Homo sapiens: one gene and its partner. The protein of the gene in region 2 purifies or fractionates together with the protein of the main gene of each other region. This does not show direct contact. Each region holds a gene or a part of one and is shown on either strand. Other genes may lie near its edges. The genes, in order: KCTD10 and ADAP2.

The links.
Region 1: the proteins of ADAP2 (region 2) and KCTD10 purify together in Homo sapiens (affinity purification with mass spectrometry; 3 studies listed by BioGRID and IntAct, with this or other methods). This does not show direct contact.

Annotation. Positions count from the first base shown.
Region 1 is NC_000012.12:109,448,048-109,453,329, forward strand, and holds the end of KCTD10 (BTB/POZ domain-containing adapter for CUL3-mediated RhoA degradation protein 3), read right to left. Parts: exon of another isoform or gene 3,767-5,282; coding exon 3,548-3,766; 3' UTR 608-3,547; downstream 1-607. UniProt on the Homo sapiens protein: Substrate-specific adapter of a BCR (BTB-CUL3-RBX1) E3 ubiquitin-protein ligase complex. The BCR(BACURD3) E3 ubiquitin ligase complex mediates the ubiquitination of target proteins, leading to their degradation by the proteasome.
Region 2 is NC_000017.11:30,917,747-30,925,052, reverse strand, and holds the start of ADAP2 (arf-GAP with dual PH domain-containing protein 2), read right to left. Parts: upstream 3,109-7,306; 5' UTR 3,039-3,108; coding exon 2,945-3,038; intron 2,114-2,944; coding exon 1,983-2,113; intron 1-1,982. UniProt on the Homo sapiens protein: GTPase-activating protein for the ADP ribosylation factor family. Binds phosphatidylinositol 3,4,5-trisphosphate (PtdInsP3) and inositol 1,3,4,5-tetrakisphosphate (InsP4). Possesses a stoichiometry of two binding sites for InsP4 with identical affinity.

The DNA of each region.
Region 1 (5,282 bases), on a different chromosome or scaffold from region 2:
CCATCACTTACCGATTCACCAAAACTTAGGTAATATGGTCTTATTTTTGATTTAATTAAATATACGTGTAGCTCATGTATTTCACAGTTTAATATGAGAAGTGCTTTGGTCTTTATTTAGAAATTGGGTGATGTTTTTGTGCCCAGCAACATGCTGTAGGAATTTAACTCTTGTTTACATCCATTAGCCTCATGGTTTTGCTTCAAGTCTCAGCTTCCAAGAACCTATCGATGACTTACTGTGCATGGTCTGAGACTAAGTAAAGGAAATTTCCTAAAGCTGTGAAATTTGAATTTTGCTTTAAATAAATGGAACTCACATGTGTCAAGGGATTGGGTTTGGTGAACTGAAGCCCTCTGCCCCATAATAGCAAATCAGTGGTAACACCAGCTGATTCACTTTTTCATGAGCCAGGCAGCCTTTGACCCCAAGACTTCCTTTTGGTGTTTGAATTCAAACAAACACTACAGAAACATGACTGTCTTTTCCCTTCCACCTGGAGCGACTTTAAGGGGCTGAGGCAGAACGTGGGGGCCCTGCCTTTGTTGTAAACCGATTTTAGGGGCCTGGTTATGCCGGGCATGCCTGAAAAGAGCCAGAAAACAGAAGCATTTTATGACTTTTATTTTACATGTCGCCAACGTTTGTACAACATACAGTGGCTACATCTAAAACTTTGAGCATTTTTTTATGGCGCAAAGAGACAGAAAGGTTAATGACACACTTAACTGTTACAGTGACTTTGGGTAGGGCCCTAAAGACAGCACACGCTCCAGAGGGCGGGCTGAGTGTTGTTCACACTTGGGTCCTGAATCGCTGTTGTAAGGTACAGAGACACACTTTAACTGGGGAATGGGGTCCCCACACAGTGATCGCCCCACGGGAGGGTGACAGAATATGCCAGGAATTGTCTTGGACATGGGCCCCAGTCACCACAATCAGATGGCTTATTTGAAACAAACAAACAAAAAAAACCCTTGATTACGACACACCAAAGCTGTTCCAATTTGTAAAAAACTGTAGTTATTACATTGCAATGAAATCTCTTTACCAAATCTTGGGCCAGTGTTTTACCTGGATAGTGCTTACATTATAAATATTGGTTTTTGCCCTTAGTGCTAACATAAGAAAAATCAGTTCCTTGTATACTCAATAACAGAGCTTGGACCAGCCAATGCTGTCTATTCACTCATGGCTATAATGCAGCCGACAGAATTGTTCACCATGGAATGTTTTATAAACCTGTTCATATTCCAGAGAGACAAAGACTCAAAACTACAAGTGCAAAGTTGGGTAGAGAGAGCTGCCAGAAACACTAGCTCATTAGGCATAGAGGCCACAGCAAATCAAATTGTTCCACAAACTCATTCTTCACACAAACATTTAAAACACTATGCAGCCAGGTGTGGTGACTCACACCTGTAATCCCAGCACTTTGGGAGGCCAAGGTGGTCGGATCACAGGGTCAGGAGTTCAAGACCAGCCTGGCCAACATGGTGAAACCCCATCTCTACTAAAAATACAAAATTAGCTGGGCATGGGCTGATGGGTACCTGCAATCCCAGCTACTCGGGAGGCTGAGGCAGCAGAATCGCTTGAACCCAGGAGGCACAAGTTGTGGTAAGTGGAGATGGTGCCACTACACTCCAGCCTGGCCAATAGAGCAAGACTCCGCCTCAAAAAAAAATTTATACAATGGCTTTTCCATTTTCCTGGCCAACATTCACTTCGACTTTCTAAAAAAGCTCAACCCAAAAGAAAGACAGGGTTGGTGTTTAACACTTAAACAGTATAAAATATTTACGAAACATTTTGTAAGCCCTCTTTCCTTAGCACTTAATAAAATCCAAATGGCCTAATATAAAAGTTTCTCACACGACAGTTTAAAAAGCATCTGCCCAATACACGATTTTGACATTCAGTCATGATTGTTTTAAAGTTTTATTGTAGACTTTGCTGTTGGATACAAAATGAAGGCATACAACTGTCACAGGCAGGGCAGTAAGTACAAAGTCTAAGCTGTAAAAACCGTTTGAAAATATAAACTCGTTTTTGGAATACATGTGTCAAAGGCTGCCCATGTTAATACCTTTGGTATAAAACGGTAACGATTCCCTTGACAAACCCATCCATCACCTGACGCACATTCACATCTCCTGGTAACTACTCTACCTAGTCTAGTCTCAACCACCCCTGTCAGTCACGACTCACTCCTGTTCCTTTGCAGGTGCAGAGGAGCCTGGGAGGTAGGTCACTGAGAACACCCGTCCTACATAGGCGCTGCGCCCAGCCGGGCTCCAGCAGGGGCCGCCACCTGTGCCCCACAAGCACACGTCCCCACCCACAGTCACACATATCCCTTAAACAAACATGAACACAGACACAAACCAGACCCAAAGTTATCTATCTACCCGCACATCCTCAACCTGTTCACTGCTGGCCACTCTACACTGTGTAAAAATCAGAGGCAAAGACAAGGGGGTCTGTGTTTATAGCAGGGAAGCTCCCTGGGGCTGGTGGTGTGAGGGTGTCCCTGCCTGGATGCCAGGCTGGGAGGACAAAGGGTATGGGCCACACTGAATTTCTAAGCAAAATGACTTAGAAAGTTAGCCCAGCTTCATGGGGAAGGAGGCTGAAGAGGAGCGGGATCCCAGGGAGGGGTAGTTTATGAGCTATGCCTGTCACAGGGTCAGATGGCCTTCCTGGAGTGGAGTCGGGTCAATCAGGAGAACAACTGGACGGGGCTGGAGTTGGGGAAAGAACCAGAAACAGAGCTGGACACTTACTGCCATGGAAAGTTCTGCTCCTACGCAGACATATGGGGTCCCAGTGAGCACCAGGCCAAAGACCAGCCCAAGGTGGCAAAAGGCTTGATCCCTAAACAAAGCCTTGCACCCAAAGTTGCACTGGTCTCAACGATTTAGACGCTCATTCAGCCATATTTCCACTGCCACAAGCTGCAATTATCAACAAGCTCTAGGCCCAAAGCCACATGGCAGAAAGCACGTCTAGCAAAGCAGTGGGGATTGTGCCCGGGCCAAACACACAGGAACCAGGAGTGGACCTGCTGGGGCTGGAGGATTATGAAATAGGAAGCAGGGAGCTCAGATACCTCTGGTGGCCTCCAACTGCAGGACAACTCTCAGAATTGTCAAACTGAACCCTTAAGGGAGTGTCACCCAAAAAGCCCACATAGGAAGTCGACACCCACAAAAATAAATATTGCAAACAAAAGTTCTCACATACACTTCACACTCATTCATACTTTTCCTCTGAGAACCGAGAAAGCCTGGCTCCAAAGAGTCTCAGATTCTCATGAAAAGTAGAGATCTTAGACACAGCTTGTTCAACGACAGGGGTCATACGCCTGGGTCAAGACAATCAATTTGCCTTGTCAAGCAATACCAAAATAATCATCTGGCTTGTTACAAAAGTATCTCCAGGCTCCAAGGGAAGCAGAAGGGGCCCGGCAGCCTGCACAGGATCTGGGTGTAGCACGGCAGGGAGTGGGGGCGGTGAGAGGAGGGCGGCTCGGTCTCTTGCCTGCTCACTGGTGGAGGTGGGCCCGGTCATCAGGGCGCTTGATGTGGATCCTCCGCACGCGCTCGATCCGCTCCCGCTCCTCGTCCTCGTCCAGGTGGTGGGAGCGCCCCGCCGCCCCGCCTGTGGCCTCCAGGAGCGCATTGTCAGGTCCCCGGCCATCCTGGGCCTCATACAGCAAAATGTTCAGGGTCTCCTCATAAATCCGGGCTTCGGGAAACTCCACCTGTGTTCCCACAGTATACAGGGCAGGTAAGTTATGGCCCACCCCCTCTGCCAACACCTGGACTTTAAGCAGGGCCGCCAGGCTAAATCAGGCCCCTGGGATTCTGCTGAAGGCCACCAGTATTATTTTTAAATAAACTGATATTTTCAATGGCAACACTTACATGTGGTGCTAAATGCACAGAAAATCAAGGGGATGCAGAGAAACAGGTCTCCCTGCCCCTAGTTTCCCTTCTTAAAGGTACAGTTTCTCATCATTTTACCCTCTCAAAGATTCTGTGCATGTAAATATGTGTAATACACATATTTATTCACACACTTCAAAAAACACACAAGGTGGCCCACCACACAGAGTTGTACATGTCTTCCTCTTGTGCCTAACTTAACCTAGAGATCATTCTGTATCAAGGAATTATAAATACGACAATGCAATTAACCATACTTGGATGGCCATTTAGGTCAGTGCTAATATGCTTCTCCTAACAGAGCTGCAACCTTGCACAGAAGTCCTTCCACACCTTAAAGCAGTCTCTAAAGCAGTTTTTTGTACAGGGTCCAGCTGGGGACTCCCACGAAATGGGCATGAGCCCTTCTGCTGTTTGGCAAATCATTGTGTTTGCTCATTGCCCTTCAGGGTTAAGGTGTGATGAACAGGAAGAGGGCCACATAAGCAGGTCCCACACATTTGATCAGACTAGACTCCACTTTCAGGGTGGAATTCGGAGGTTCTGGGAAAAATGGAGCAGGCACACTCTACCCCGTCTTCCTCACTGACACTACAAAGCCAGAATGGGATGCACACAGCAGCTAACTGTGGACTCAGAAGTAAATCATGGCAGGCAGATGGGGGAAACAACAGAATTTGGAGTAATGCCCAACAGTGAGTTTACTGTTTGCTGCTGCCAGCACTGATGCAGCCTGAAACCCTGAAATGGCACCAGGACAGAAGACCTCCAGAAGGTCTCTAGTGGCCAGGGAGGCCAACAGAGTCTAACAGGCAGAGAGGCTGGGAGGAAATCCTGGTTTTCTTTCCTTTTTTTTTAAAAGATATGGGATCTGGCTAATTAAGCTTTAAAATTTTAAGACTTCTCATTTTTAGAGCTTAATAAGGAGCAAGGGGATTTAGAGACCACATGGTCTGATCCCAACTGTTTCTTGATTCACAGACCAGGTTCAGGAGTGGCGTGTTCTTGTGTTTGTGAAGCTGGTTAGGGGCAGAGCCAGGACGGGAGTCCAAGGGCCTCTTTCTTTTCTCTTTTTTGTTTTGAGAGGGAGTGTTGCTCTGTCACCCAGGCTGGAGTGCAGTGGCACAATCATAGCTCACTGCAGCCTTGAACGCCTAGGCTCAAATGATTCTCCCACCTCAGCCTCCCCAAGTAGTTGAGACTATAGGCATGCATCACCATGCCCAACTAACTTTTTGTAGAGATGAGTGTGTTGCTATGTTGCCCAGGCTGGTCTTGAACTACTGGGCTTAAATGATTCTCCCACCTCAGCCTCCCAAGTAGTTTAGACTA
Region 2 (7,306 bases):
TAAAAATACAAAATTAGCCGAGCATGGTGGTGCATGCCTGTAATCCTAGTTACTCAGAAGGCTGAGGCACAAGAATCGCTTGAACCCCAGAGGCAGAGGTTGCAGTGAGCCAAGATCGCATCATTGCACTCCAGCCTGGGCAACAAGAGTGAAACTCCGTCTCAAAAAAAAAAAAAACAAAAAAAACAAAAAAGAAAATATAACATGGGAGTTATAAGGTGCAAATAAAATCCTTCAGGTTTATGTGCTGGTTTACTGGTTTCCAGCCTTTCTCCCACACTAGAATGTAAGCTCTGTATGGCCAGGGACCTTATCTTGTTCATTGTTCTCTCCCAAGACCCAGCACTTAGTAAGGTCACACTAAAGCCTCCAGTCCGGTGCTGTCTAGCACAGTACCTGGCACAGAGTAGGCATTCAGTAAATGTCAGCCTGCTTCCCCAATAGTCCTGGAAACCCTCAGCCAACCCGCACAGTGCAGAACTGCCTGCTCTCTGGAGGTTTTCTGACCAAAATGGAATTACCATGCAGGCTGAGGGTATCCTCCACCCCCAGAGGGCAGGAGAGCAAAGTGGTCCTCTTTCTGCCTAGGGGGAAAGGAGGACTTTAGACCACAAATCAGGTTATTTCCCTTCCCCCAGTCCAAGACTTCACTAATGATAACAGCAACTTTTTTTTTTTTTTTGAGGTAGGGTCTCACTCTCACCCTGGCTGGAGTGCAGTGGTGCGATCTCAGCTCATTGCAGCCACACTCTCACAGGCTCAGGTGATCTTCCCACCCCAGCCCCCGAAGTATCTGGGACGACAGGCGCATGCCATCACACCCAGCTAATTTTTGTATTTTTTGTAAAGACGGGGTTTCACCATGTTGCCCAGGCTGCTCTTGAACTTCTGGGCTCAAGCAATCCACCAGCCTCAGCCCCCCAAAGTGCTGGGATTATAGGTGTGAGCCACCACACCCGTACAACAGCAACTGTTAACTGACAGCTTTCTTTGTGTCTGGACTGAGCCTACAATCATCTTCACAACAGTGCTGTGACATTGGTGGTAGTGGCCAGGCACAGTGGCCCACGCCTGTAATCCCAGCACTTTGGGAGGCCGAGGAGGGTGGATTACCCAAGGTCAGGAGTTCGAGACCAGACTGACCAACATGGCAAAACCCCGTCTCTGCTAAAAATTAATACAAAAATTAGCGGGGCATGGTGGTGGGTGCCTGTAATCCCAGCTACTCAGGAGGCTGAGGCAGGAGAATTGCTTGAACCCAAGAGGCAGAGGTTGCAGTGAGCCGAGATTGGCCGTTGCACTCCAGCCTGGGCGACAAGAGTGAAACTCCGTCTCAAAAAAAAAAAAAAAAAAAAAAAAGGAAGAAAGAAAAAAAGAGAAATGGTGGTGGTATCCCTTGAATACAGATGTGGAAACTGAGGGTCCACAGCTAGGTCAAAGTACCTAGCTCAGGGCCTCCCAGCTTATAGGTAAGCAAATGATGGCCAGGAGCGGTTCAGGATGGTTCAGGCCTGTAATCCCAGCACTTTGGGAGGCTGAGGTGGTGGATCGCCTGAGGTCAGGAGTTCGAGACCAGCGTGACCAACATGGTGAAACCCCGTCTCTACTAAGTACAAAAAAATTAGCCGGGTGTGGTGGCAGGCGCCTGTAATCCCAGCTGCTTGAGAAGCTGAGGCAGGAGAATTACTTGAACCCGGGAGGCAGCGGTTGCAGTGAGCCAAGATTGCTCCACTGCACTCCAGCCTGGACAACACAGCGAGACTCCGTCTCAAAAAAAAAAAAAAAAAAGTAAGCAAATGATAGAGCCAGAATTTGAACTCTCGGCCTCTGTCTAAGCTGCCATCTTATAAGCTGTGTTTCCTCTAGCTAGACTTGCCCCTCTCTGGTTCTCAGTTTCCCCCTCTGTAGAATGGGAGCCCCCTGCCCGCTGCCTCTACTCCAGTCCCGCAGTTCCATGGCTCTCCACGGGCATGCCTTTCTACCTCCACAATACTGTCGTCCCAGAAGTCAAGTCGCACAGATTTAACTCTGCTGATGTCAGGGAAGTTACGGTGGACGCCGCAGCAGTTGAGACAGATGAAGATCCCCAGCTTGTAAGAGGCCCAGTCGGGATCTGCAGGGGATGAGGCAGGAGAGGAGCTGAGCGGAAAGCGCGGTGAAGAAACCAGGGCTGGGCTCGGGGCACTGGGGCAGGTGGGGCGCCCCTTCTCCCACCTAAGGCGAACTAAGCGGCCAGCCTGGCACCTTCTGGTTAGCCCACCGGCCGCTGCGCGGCGACCGGGGTGAAGATCCTGGAGGCAGTTCAGGGCCCGGGGAGAGAGTCTGAGGCTGCGCGACGTGGAAGTGAAGGGACTCAGAAGGAACCGAGAGGAGGGCGCGGGGGGCGCACCGCGGGGCTCGGCGCGGAGCTGCAGGTGGGGAGGCTGAGTTAGGGGGCCCTCGGCGTCCCCGAGGTGGGGCGCTGGGGAGGCCTTCGGGGGGCGTCTGGGAGCGGGCAGGGGGCACAGGACTGTCGGCGGCCTGGGCCCGACGTTTAGCCCTGGCTGGGATGTCTGAGTCCGAGGGCGTGGGGCGCGCCTGGGTGCGCAGACATCGAGAGCCCGGACTCGGGCGGTCGGGTGCCTGGCCAGGGAAGAGAGCGGGACTGGAAGGGCTCTAGGCTGCCGGCTCTCGTGTCCGGGTCCAAGCACGTGGGAAGATGCGCATCTGGTCCCGCGAGGGGAGCAGAGCCTGGGCTCGTAGGGGCCGGGGCAGGGTGTGGTGGAGACGGCCCTCGGGGCTCGGGTGAGAGGTTCACGGTGTGGGTGGGAGGGGTCGGGGCCCGCAGGTGCCACGTCTGGGTCCAGGGGGCCGAGGGCGGGACCCGGTGGGGCCGAGGGGAGGAGTCGGGTGGGCCTGGGGTCCGGCCGGGGGTCTCGCGCTGCCCGCGCCGCCGCGCCCTTACCTGCCGCCCCGCAGTCGGCGCAGTGCGCGTTGCCTGTGTCCGGCGCCCGCAGCAGCTCCAGCAGCCGCTTCTTGTTGCGCTCGCGATCGCCCATGGCCGGCCCGGCGGGCTCAGCGGGGCTCAGCCCATGGCCCGTGCGCTCCGCCCGGCAGGTGGAGAGGGACCCGGCCGCGGCGCCTCAGCCAGGCCTGGGCAGCCGCCAGCCCCGCCCCGCACCGTCAGGACTGTCCGCCCCTCCCTCGGCAGGTCCAGTCCGGCCCCGAGCTCCGCCGACGCGCGGGGAGGGACAGGAGCACGCAAATTGGAGTTTAACACACTGGCCTGAGATCAAATCGTGGCCTGTCACTTGGTAGCTACGAGACTGTGGACAACCTATTCAACCTCTGTGGGTCTCAGTTTCCGCGTCTATGAAAGAGGAACAAGGGCATATGTCTGCATCTCAGCGCTTCTTGGAAAATTAACCAGAATCTAACTTCTGTTAAAGCGTTCTGTTAATGTAAGATCTTACATCTATTTGGAGACGTATTTATATGCAAATGCCACCTCCTCAGGAAGCCCTCTGTGATACCCTGCCTGGAGTAATCTTTCCAGCCTCTGGGTCTCCAAGAATACTCTTGTAGTATCTGTCTATTTGTTTTGGACCTGAGCACTTTCTATCTACCTTGCATCACGGTTATTTATATACTTGTGTTAATTCCACTCTCTGACCGCAGACACATACACATGTCCACACCAGGGAGTTTGACGTCAGCAGTTTTATGTCTGTATTCCATATTGCTCCTATAAATGATACCTGCACATTTTTAGAAGTCCAACTAATAGTTGCATGATTTTGTTCACCAGAAAAGTGTGGTTTCACCAAGGTGGACACAGCCAGGCACTTTAACCTGTGAAGTTCCATCACCGCGAGGTGAAGGCAGGGTATAGGTGGTCTTAAATGTGGGCATTTCATTTCCTCTTTCCCTCTCTCCCATCTTTGTTACTGCTTGACATCATCTTCGTTACTCCTTGACATCATCTGCAATGACTCATGGGCCTCCTGGTGAAATATATACTGTACATACTTGCCATCTTCTATGTAGGTTAATACCTTAATGCACACAGATGCATTAAGCCATATGCATATGATAGACAGGTGTTAACCTTCAGGATAAAATCAGGTTTCCATCCTGGTGAATTGCAGCTGATGTTCTAGCTGACCTGCCCACACTCCCATTCAACATACATGCGGGCGCAAGCACACACGTGCACACACACGCACAGCAATATGGTGTAATGGAATGAATTCAGGAATCCAGAAATTCAGGCTTTAAATGTTGACTCCTTCATTTCCACATTTCCCAACTGTTTGTCTCTGGGCAAGTTCCTTCACTTCTCTGAGCCTCCAAACCCTCAACTGTTAAATGGAGAGCGTAAGATCCACTAATAGGGTCATTGAAATGGCACAAAGAAACCCTCCAAACATGGTGGCCTCCTTGCTTCCCCTGCCCCTATGGTCAGCTTGTGGAATTGTCGCTTGGAATGCTGTGTGTGATTCCCGTCATCCCTGGGGTGGAGGAGGTCAAGCTGCCAGGACTGAGCAGGAAGGGAGGGTGGAGAGTATTACCAAGAATAGCCAGCCATGAGGGGGTCTTGCCTGTGAGGGGGTGAGGCCTAGCCCAGGAGCAGCCACAGAGGAACCAGTGAGAGAGTCAGCTGGGGTCAGGGGGCATGGGGCTGTTTATTAAACCGGCTGAAAGATGATTCATTTCCGTTGCTTTAGATGAAAAAAGGGACAGAAATAAATCTCCCAGGAGAAAGATGGGAAAGTCAACTTAAGGTATGAAGGCAAAGGAAAGAGGGAGAGAGGGAGAAGAGGAGACAAGCTAAGGACATTTCTCCTCTGCCCAACACTGGGACAAAATTGTGATGCTGGGGGTGCTTCCTCGGCACCCGAGCCTTCACCAGTCTGTGCTCCTTTGCTTCTCTGACACCTTAGGTCTCACTGCCACCTCCCTGTAGGTCCCACAAAAGCCAACCCAGTTCTAAGTAGGCTCTGGTTGAATCTCAGAAACTTTAAAAAAAGCCGGGCGCAGTGGCTCACGCCTGTAATCCCAGCACTTTGGGAGGCCGAGGGGGGCGGATCACGAGGTCAGGAGATCGAGACCATCCTGGATAACACGGTGAAACCCCGTCTCTACTAAAAATACAAAAAAATGGCTGGGTGTGGTGGTGGGCGCCTGTAGTCCCAGTTACTTGGGAGGCTGAGGCAGGAGAATGGCATGAACCCAGGAGGCGGAGTTTGCAGTAAGCCGAGATCGCACCACTGCACTCCAGCCTGGGCGACAGAGTGAGACTCTGTCTCAAAAAAAAAAAAAAAAAATTAAAAAAAAAAAGAAAAAGAAAAAGAAAAAAAATAGCCAATCCAAGAGAACATACAGTATCTCATTCATAGTGAGGAGCCAGAGATTGAGAGATTCCTTTAGTTTCCCCTCTTCCCTTCCTTATTTCTGGAGGTTCCCATCAAACAGCCTTAATGTGGCATTTCAGGCATCCTCAGAGCAAAACAATGTACTCTGGTATTTTGTTTATAATGCTTTCTTTTCTTTTCCCTTCTTTTTTCTTTTCTTTGTTTCTTTCTTTTTTTTTTTTTTTTTTTTTTTTTGGTGGTGGTGGTTGTAGGACAATGCTAATGAACAATTACTGAGTGTTTTTTTTACAAGAGCGTCACACATTTGATCATATTTTAGCTTCATGACACCCTCAGAGGGCAGCATCACATCAGGCCACTTTACAGAAGAGAAAGCTGAGCCTCAGAGGATTTAAGTTACCCAAGGTCATGGAGCCAAATAAGAAGCGGAACAGGGCCTAAATCCAGATCTCCTACTGTGGCTCAGTCAGTCCCAGGTGATTTCATGAAACCTCCCTTTAGTGCATTCTGGACTTTTTTTTTTCTTTTTTTACTTAAATTGTGGTTCGGTTAATAAGGTTGCTCCAAAAAAAAAACAAAAAAAAAAAAAAAAAAGAAAAATATATATAAATTAAAAAATTGTGATAAAATCTAAACACAAAATTTGCCATTTTAACCATTTTTTTCTTTAGAGACAAGGGGGTCACTTTGTCACTCAGGCTTGAGTGCAGTGGTACAATCAGAGCTCACTGCAGCCTTGAATGCCTGGGCTCAAGTGATCCTCCTGCTTCAGCCTCCTGAGTAGCTGGGACTATGGGAACGTACTACCAAACCTGGCTAATTTTTTTATTTTTCTATTTTCACAGAGACAGAGGCTTGCTTTGTTGCCCAAGCTGGACTCCAACTTCTGGCTTCAAACAATCCTCCAGCCTCAGTCTCCCAAAGCTTTGTGATTACAGGCATGAGCCACCATGCCCCACCCATCTTAATCATTTCTAAGTGTACAATACTATGTCATCGATTGCATTCAATTATATTCACAATGTTGTGCAATTATCCCCACTATTTTAACAAATATTTAATTGACAAAGAAAGATTGTATATATTCAATGTGTACATGATTTGACATATGTGCACATTGTGTAATGATTCCCACAATCGCATTAATGAACACATCCATCCCCATCCATACTGCACCTTAGATCCCCAGAATTCTTCTTATAATTGAAAGTCTGTACCCTATATTTCCTCCACTATTTATTTCCAAAACTTTTGCATCAACCTAAACAGAAACTGTAGCCCCGGTCTGGGCAACACGGTGAAACCCTGTCTCTACAAAAATTACCAAAATTAGCTGGCTATGGTGGCACATGCCTGTAGTCCCAGCTACTCAGTAGGCTGAGGTGGAACGATCGCTTGGGTCCAGCAGGCAGCGGTTGCAGTGAGCCACAATCACGCCACTGCCCTCCAGCCTGGGCAACAAAGCAAGACTCTGTCTCAAAAATAAAACAAAACTCTGTAGCCCACTCCTGGATACTGGACATTATGAAAATTGAGCTCAGCTTCTGTGCTCAGGACCCAGAAGCTACTTCTAAGTGAAGAGGACCATGCCAAAGGCTGTCATGACCAAGGTGGACACTGAGCACTGTGACCCAGAGTTTGAGGGACAGGATGGGTCAAAGCAGCCTCTCTAAAGGGCTCAGTCAATACAGCAGATGCTGGAGTGAGGGAGCAATTTGGGCTGTGGGACAGAATGTCCTTTGTAAATAAAGCTCCCAGGGTCCCACCAAGAAGAAACATCTAGCCCTGTTCTCAGGTCACTGTGTTTGTCCAGCCAAGCCAAGCTGCAGCAGGGCTGGAAGAAAGCCCTCAACCACATTCCCAGTAACAGCCTCAAGGTCCCCACTCAAGATCTTCAGGGCATAGAACACAATTCCTTTGAAAATTAAATAATTGGCTGGGCACAGTGGTTC